Regions from separate parts of the Homo sapiens genome. Here region 1 is linked to region 2. The links come from fine-mapping of genetic effects on gene expression. A gene starts in region 2. The other region holds a variant in brackets. All regions are shown on one strand. Distances are from middle to middle.

Evidence for each region. PIP is the estimated chance that this variant, and not a neighbour inherited with it, causes the effect. A credible set is the group of variants that fine-mapping cannot tell apart.
Region 1: its variant is the best candidate, but not a certain one, in a credible set for the expression of ANKRD44-AS1 in T cells (GENCORD, PIP 0.51).

What each region holds. Positions count from the first base shown.
Region 1 is chr2:197,303,384-197,307,780 of GRCh38, reverse strand. All of the region lies in intron 1 of ANKRD44 (ankyrin repeat domain 44), which reads left to right. Among named protein-coding and RNA genes, the nearest start is that of ANKRD44-IT1, 3.1 kb to the right of the region's middle. RefSeq lists enhancers at 222-301, 342-391, 2,857-2,986. The variant A/G (reference allele first, on the strand shown) is at 2,756.
Region 2 is chr2:197,195,862-197,200,258 of GRCh38, reverse strand. ANKRD44-AS1 (ANKRD44 antisense RNA 1) reads right to left here and starts at 2,268. Exons shown (of 2, transcript NR_135584.1): 1 at 2,170-2,268; 2 at 986-1,341. All of the region lies in intron 1 of ANKRD44 (ankyrin repeat domain 44), which reads left to right. RefSeq lists an enhancer at 1,153-1,222.

The DNA.
Region 1 (4,397 bases), 110 kb before region 2:
TAAATGTGGCAAAAGTCAGGGGTGACAGATGATGACATTTTCTCTCCAGCTAAAGCTGGGTGCAGGAGCTTGCTAGGTGAAGCAGACACTACTTCAGCAGTCAGTCCTGTAGTGACCTCTCAATCTTGTAAGAGAAGGAAAATGTTTTTTCCTAACTCTTTTTTTTTCAGGAGAGTAAAAAGAAAAAGGGAGAGACCAGTGTAATTTTTAGTCTTTTTTTTTTTTTTTTCACTGTAAAAAAGGAACTGGGAGCTATCACTACAAACAAACAAACTTGGCATTTAGCACTTCTGCATTTGTAACTTTTGTAACAGTGTCCCTTCTGTTTTCCTCTTCACAGGGCACACATAATTTTTATTGCAGCCTTAGGGGGCACTAACCATCCTGGTTTGTGCAGATTGACTGGTGTCCCAGCATATGGGGCTAAAACCGGGAAAATTCCAGGCAAACTGGGAGGAACTGGTTACCCTGTGTAACATAGAACATCCTCAACTATGTCATTAATATAATAATGTAATTAGTTCCTTGTATGTGGACATTAGGAGTTTTATATTTTTTGGTAAAGTGAGATAATTTTAAGTTTGGGAAAGAAAATTTTGTTAAATACAGATCTAAGGCATTTGACTCAAAGATAGCCATGAAACCTTTTTGAAAATTGATTTGATATTGACTGTTTTAGGGTGTTCTTTATGTCATATAGTTAAAGGCACTGTAGTCATTTTAAGTGTGTGGTCGTATCTTCAGCCTGGATCTCTACCCGAAATTTATTTTCAGAGTTATGAAGCTAGGATGGTAAGTTCTGTTGCATGTTTAAAGTGTCCACTATTCTTACCTGCATTTGTTAATGATGGCAGAACACTACTTTCATCTCGGAGGCTGCCTGCAGACAAACTGTTTCAGCAGGTGGCCTTTTTGGAGCTTCCTGCCTGGAGGCCTTCTGGTTTGGTGTTCCCTTGCCAAGTCCTAGTTCACACTTGAGTCACCTACCTTCTTGCCAAAGGCAGTGGCTGGCAGCGGTGGCAGTGGCAAGAGACTAGAAATCCTGTGTAACTTTGGGAGCAGGATTTCTAGCCCATAGTGTGGGGCCTTGGGACGTGTTACATATTTTACTGGGCTGCCCTTGTTCTTCCATGGCTCCCTAGAGCACTGGTGTTAAAGCAAACAGTATGCTGTAGTCCTGTCTTCAGCATAGAAGAAGGGAAAAGAAAGGCTTTATTTAGAACCTTTTCTGGTTGTTTCAGGACCCAATCACATGGTTTTGAGAGTGCACTTGAGGCTGGTGTTTCATGGCAGAGACCTAATAATGTCACACATTTATTGTGCTCTTATTGTATACTGGGCCTTTGCAGTGAATCATGTCTTAATCCTCATAGCCACACTAGGAGGTAGGTGGTGGTGTGATTTCTATTTTATGGATGAGAAAACAGGAATAGAGAGGCTAATTGACCGGTTTAGGGTCATACGCCCAGTAAGTGATCTAGCACACTGTCCTACCCTGGCAGTCTGATTGCACAGGTGGGGCTCTGACCACAAGGCTATACTTTTCATAGTTGAAAGGGCAGTGCAGCCATGGGATTAATGGGTGTCTGATCTTGTTTACAGAGAAGCCATTGGATGAACAGCGTTCCCTGAACTCCTTCTGCCTCTTGGGCCAGACCCATTTCTGTACATAGTAAGGAGCTGCTCTGAGGCCTCTGCCCCTGCCTGGCTTATACCTGGCTTTTCCCATTAGCCTCTCCATTTCCTCACCCCGGTGAATGATGTGTTGGTAGTTCAGTGATTTTTTTCATATATATATATATATATATATATAAAACGAACTGCGGTCATTATAGGAAAAGCAGAAAGCTAGATGAGCAAACCAAAAAATTTTAAAACCATCTGAAGCCTGTATACTCAAGAGATAACTATTCTTGACATTTTGATATGTTTCCTTCTAGTCTTCTGTCTGGGTAGCCAGTTAAAATTTTTAAACTTTTCGTGTGATAATATCATTACCTTTCACTTGTGCACATAGCTGATATCTGTGTTCTCTACACCAATGACTTTTCCAAATAAACTTATTCTTCTCTTACATATATGATTGGCTCTTTAGCCAACGCCAGCACATAAGCTCTAGCTCTGGATTAATGGAACTAACTTTTTTCTTTTTCTTTTCTTTCTTTCTTTCTTTTTTAAGATTTCAACTTTTTACTTCCTCTTTTGCTGTAAACAGAGAGCAAATACGAACTCAAAAAGGCACAAATTGTTTGTACCAGAAACAGAAATGAAAGATTCTTTAAAAAGATTTGTATTTCTACAAGATAATGTGAATTTTTATAGGCTAAAGTATAGCACGAAATAATTTAAAAACAGGCAGAGCTACAGAGATCTGATAATTTTGTGATTTCCAAATTTGTTTAAGCTATGACACTCCTTTTTTCCCCCGAAGAAATTTCATATTGAAGCTCAATATATAAAAAAGATTGGCTTGGACAGTGGTCCCTGAGTCCCTCTTGAAAACTGGTTGGGTTTAGTATTATTTGAAAGCCCCTTTGTATGAGAAAACTCCTGGTGATTGGTTAAGTGTTTTTTGTTGTTGTTTTTGTTTTTTTTCCTGACACATCATGTATGAAACAACATTTATAAATGTTTGTGAATGATTAGGAACTACACAGAACTAGGATGACTATATCATTTTTATCCGTTTGAGAATCATAGGTGATACTACTCAATATGAAGCCACAAATAGACGTGAGCCAGGACTGTCCTGGGT[A/G]AACCTGGATATGTGGTCATCATATATTCACATAGACTCCATGTTTGCTCACCACAGGCTTGACAGTGACAGTAAACTAGTTTGACTAGCAGACTACTCTGTCTCTTTTGAGTCAGGTCTACAGTGGTGCAGGTATTACAAAGATTGTTTTATGACCTTGTGCAGAGTTGGGAAACAGCTTCCATGTCACACATGAGTTCTGATCGGTCCAGGACTTGCAGGTGTAATGTGATAGAAACATTCTGACTCTTGCAGTCAAGGATCCGAGAAAGTGTGATTGATTACCAGTGTTTGCTATGGGTACACGGGAAGGGAGAAGTGACATATGTTGTACATTAGCCAACCCTTGGCAAGACATGTTAACCTCTGTAGGCTTCAGGTTTCTCTTTGTAAAATGAAGAGGTTGGACTGGATGCCTTTATGGTGCCTCAGCTCTGCCCTCTCCCTTCTGTGACTTGGTGCCTGTAATGGAGACCGATGCTCTTCACATGGTTTGTGTTATAGCATTTCTTACAAATGTGCCTATGAAGGGTGTATTTGCAGATGAGCTCTAATAAGGCTTTCCAGGTAACAAAGTCAAACAGCTTCAAGTTCCAGAGAAGGATTTTAACCCATGTCAATGACTTAGGACTAATTCCTATTCTCCACCCTACTTCAATTCATAGATAATCTAAGATTACCCATTTTATTTATTCTGTATTTTTATTTTTTTGGGACAGAGTCTCGCTCTGTTTCCCAGGCTGGAGTATAGTGGTGCAATCTTGGCTCATTGCAACCCCCGCCGACCCCCTCCTGGGGTTCAAGTGATTCTTGAGCCTCAGACTCCCGGGTAGCTGGGATTACAGGCTTGCACCACTACGCCCAGCTAATTTTTGTATTTTTAGTAGAGATGAGGTTTCACCATGTCGGCCAGGCTGGTCTCAAACTCCTGGCCTCATGTGATCTGCCTGCCTCAGCCTCCCAAAGTGCTGGGATTACAGGGGTAAGCCACCACACCTGGCCTAAGATTGCCCTCTTTATAGATTACTCCTTTTTAACCTTTTAACCAATATATTATTTGGCTTTGGCTGCTTTCAGAGGTCGGGAATGCAGGTATTTGCCCTTATCAGTGTTTATGTTTGTAAATATGTTGGTAGCCTAAGAGGTTGAAATTAATGATTCATGAATCCAGCTTGTAATTATGATATTCATAATTTTTAAGGATCTTTTCACTTGCCTCCTCTTTTGAAAACTTAAAATTTATATTCTATAAAGTGAGCTAAGCAAATAAATATATAGTCCACTTTGGGCTGTTTCAGGGATTACTAAGTCGATAATTGTTTGCATTTCTTGGTTTTTGTTTGCTTAGAGTCCCCTTGCTCCCATCCTGGGGAGTCTTAAGCATCCAAGCATAGCTTTCTAGGATATCTTTTATACCAGAAGACCATTTTCCCCTAAGAAAGCTTTCAGAGCTTTTAGTAAAATTAGGGAGACTTGTGGAAACATCTGTTTGAGCCTAGACATGGAAATTAATTACAATTCTAACCTGTCTCTAAAAGTTTTGCTTTTTTTATTTAAAAAATTTTGTTTTGCTTTAGTTTGTTTTAAAAATAACACTAGATTGGGAATCAGAAGACGTGGATTCTACTCATGGTTCTTCTAA
Region 2 (4,397 bases):
ATCAAGAAGGCTCCTAGAATATTATGGCTAAAGGCACCTCCAGATTACCTCTCCAATCTGTCATTGTGCAGAAGGACAACTTGGCATCCATTTGCATGAGGTCTGTAGAACATGGTTCAGTACTGTCTTACACAGTTTAAGTGTTTTGTGTGGGTTAGGCTTATTTCCCCAACTATATTTGGCAGTCTTTTAGGAAAGGACTATGTCACACATTTCTTTTGTATATTTCATAAAAATAGCATATTGTAGGTACTCAGAAAATGCTTTTGGCTCTGGTAGCACTTCTCTGTGCAATGTGGATAAGCACTGATAGAGGCTTGTTTGTTGTGGTACAAACTAGAAACAACCCAAATGCCCATTCGAAGGGGAATAATTGAATATGTTATGGCATATCCATACAATGGAATAGTATTATATATAGTTATTAAGAGAAATGATTTAATCCTGTAGCTATCGACCTGGGGGATGTCCTCAGTACATCATTATTTTTGCAAATTGTAAGAGAGGGAAATAAGCCAGGCATGGTGGTATGCATCTGTAATCCAGACTACTTGGATTACAGATACTTGGGTGGGAGGATCGCTTGAACCCAAGAATTTGAGACCACCCTGGACAATATAGCAAGACCCCCATCTCAAAAAAAGTGTGTGTGTGGGAAATAGTAAAATCCCATTTTCTGATAATAAATAACGATAATCTCATATATCTGTATCTGTACCTACCAACAAGAACACGGGCTGTTCACATTTGTGGTAGGAAAGGTTATTAAGTTTTTTCTTTATCTGTTTTTGTATTGTTGCAACAGGAAACCTACTAAGATTAAAATCCAGCAAACATAAGACAAAGATAAAATGCACAGGGGTTTTGATGCATTAGGTGTTTCCCATAGTACTTCCTATTTTTCAAACTTCGTGTGATTAAAAAAGTAAGTTTTATCCCTGACTAAATTTCAGTGTGGAAATAAAGAAATAAAGATAGCATGTACTTGGCTTAGGTATACTTGTTTTGTTCTTTCAGCTCGTTACGTAAAGATACATTTTTTTTTCTTTCTCATGACATGAAGATAAGCTTTCTTCTTACCAAAACCTAAACTGTGAAGGCAGCACCCAAGCCAAAAGCCTCGAGGCTCTGGTTTCTGTGGTGGGATGGGGAGAGAAGTAGGTTGCACAGATGTAGGATGCCAGCTGACTTCAGAACTTCCGGTCTCAGAGCTAACCAGGCTCGGCAAGCCACAAGAGAGAAGGAGCTTGCATAGGTGGAAGAGCAAAGAAAGCCAGTGCTGCAGAACTTCCGGTGCTCCTCCGCCGATGTCGGGCTGGCGCTGCTCCCGAGCCCTGTGTCCTGTGGAAGAAGTTGGTGAGAATCGTTTTGAATGTAGGCAGCCACTCCTGAGGAGGCTAGCCCTTGCTACATTAAAGGTGGAGCTAGATTTACATTTTATTTTATTTTATTTTATTTTTTATTTTTCGAGATGGAGTCTTGCTGTCGCCCAGGCTGGAGTGCAGTAGCACGATTTCAGCTCACTGCAACCTCCACCTCCCGGGCTCAAGCGATTCACCTGCTTCAGCCTCCCGAGTAGCTGGGATTACAGGGGCACGCCACCATGCCTGGCTAATTTTTTGTATTTTTAGTAGAGACGGGGTTTCACCATGTTGGCCAGGCTGGTCTCAAACTCCTGGCCTCAGGTGATCCACCTGCCTCGGCCTCCCAAAGTGCTGGGATTACAGACGTGAGCCACCATGCCCGGTCAAATTTACCTTTTAGATTCACATATTACCACCAGAAGAATGCTTCCTCTGACAACTGAGCGGTACTCCATCCCCAGAGCCCTTTGTGCAGACTATTATTGCAGTTTCCTAACTTGTTATGACACTCCAGCCTTTTCCTCCAGGTCATCATACAATCCATTTTTAGAGTGATTGTTCTAAAGCACAAATCTTAGGTCACTCCCCTGCTCAAAAACCACCCACTGCTCCCCCAGTTCCACAGAAGAGAGCTCAAATTTCTTAGCTTGGTATTCAAGACCTTCCATGATAGGATCCCTGTCTACTACTCAGCTTACCTCACTTCTCCCCTCCTCCAGCCAAATGAAACTGTTCCCTGTGTATGTTCAGGCTCCCTAGCTTCTGCTCACAGCCTTCTGAATATGAAGAAGGGAAAGTCCCTTACCATTCCATCCGTCTCTACCTGTTTAAATCCTCCCCAGTCTTCAATATTCATTTCAGAGGCTGCGTCTTTCAGGAGGCCAGGTACAATTTCTCTCCCTTCTCCATGCACTTCTCCTGCGGCCTGTGCCTTACATTCTAGCTGTGCGTATTTGTATACTTCCTGTTACACCTTGGTAACCTCATCAAGGGAGAGACTGACTCTGACATTCCAGTGTCTGAATTTCTTTCTTTCTTTTTCTTTTTCTGTGTTTCTTTCTTTCTTTTTTTTTTTTTTTTTTTTTGAGACAGGATTTCACTCTGTCACCCAGGCTGGAGTGCAATGGTGTGAGCATGGCTCACTGCAGCCTCAATTTCCTGGGCTCAGTTGGTTCTCCCACCTCAGCCTCCCGAGTCGCTGGGACTACAGGTGTGCGCCACCGTGCCCAGCTAATTTTTGCATTTTTAGTGGAGATGTGGTTTCACCATGTGTCTAGGCTGGTCTGGAACTCCTGGATTCAAGTGATCCGCCTGCCTTGGTCTCCCAAAGTGTTGGGATTACAAGCATGAGCTACTGCGCCCGGCCTCCAGTGTCTGAATTTCTTATGCTCAGTAAATGTCTTATGCTTAATACATCTTTGTTGAATTGAATGTGGTTATCTGAAATGTACCAAATTAAGTTTTAGAAAACATATCTTTTATCCCCTGTTGGAGGGGGTAGTGTGTAAAGAAATAAAGGAGCTACGCACTGGGTTGGTGTCTGTGAAAGGAAATATGATATGACTTCTTTTTTTTTGCAGAATTTCCCATTTTCCCATTTTATATTATCGAATGTTTTCCAGTCTCTTAGGCTCCTCTCTCTTCCTGCTGCCTTATCCTTTCCCTTTGACATCTGTCACTGGATGTCCTTACCATGATTTTGGATGGGGAAATGAGAAGATGCTTCCTGAAAGACTACACTGAGGGGATTCTCTAATAGATTTTCATTCCATGTGACTTTTTCTGGCTGGGGAGGGAGTAGGGGACCTTCCAGTCATCTCAGGCAGAAACTAATTCAGGTCCTGATCAACCCACTGCCTTAAATTTTAGAATGGTTGCTATAACAATTTTAGAATGGTTGCTATAACAAGATGCCTTAGGAAAAAAAAAATTGACAATGGCCAGAACAGGAAGGTGACTCCGTTTTACACATGTCCCTAGTCCCTCACCTGTGGAGAGGTGGTGAGAGTTTAACTGCTTGCTGTCTTTCCAAGAATGCACGTGGAATTCAAAGAAAAGAACAGTAGAAGGGAAGGAGAGGGTTTAAAGGAAAATTGTCATGGGCTTTGGAAAGACCTGATTGTGTAAAAATTGCTTGCTGGTGTTTGGAAAGAACCCAGGTGCTAACAGATTTTAGACAAACCCAATCTGGAGTTGCCTAAATCATGAATGATTTAATGTGACTGAGTTAATCCATATATCTTGTATACAGTAGTTCCAGCCTCCTCAAATGTAGCAGGAGATTGCCACCTTTCTGAGAGTACCTTTCATTTCTACATGCTGATTTTGTTGTTGTTTTTAAAGGACACTTGAATTGCTTTATTTAGCTTCCAATTTGTGAGATTCTCAAAAATTAAAATTACTCATGACCACAAGAAGATACTTCTGTAGTTATGGATCATTTTCTGCTATTTTTTATAAGGAATACTTTTTTATTGTTGTCTTTTTTATAAGTGATGCACATACCAGGTAGTAATAAAAAGTCATGTTTTCCAGTGCACCCTAAAACTGAACTGCTGTCTCTATTTGAACAGACAAATAAATTATACTGAATATACCTACAACCCTGAAAATCATCTTCTGGCCATTTTTCTTTTTTCCCCACAAAGATCACTAAAGTGGTTTATATTGATTAACATTATTAAATCCACCTCTCATGTTTGCAACTACATGAATTCAATATGCAGTAAGATACAGTTATACAAAGAATGTAACCCAAGCCAAGATGAGAAATAAAACCTCTATACCAATTTTTCAAAACAGGAAACTGTTGCAGAAGTATATATAGTTGTTCTTTTTGTTTCACTAAAATTACATGGATTTAAATGTTCTGTATGAACTAACCTCCTGGATCCATTGTCCTTTTTGCCCAAATTAGCTTTCTTTAAAAGTTAACTCCCCAACACAATTTAATTATCTTAGCTAAAGTTTAGGTTTGATCTCAAGCCATTTGAAACTAGACAGAGTGAAAAAATCTGTGGGTAGTTGGCAGCA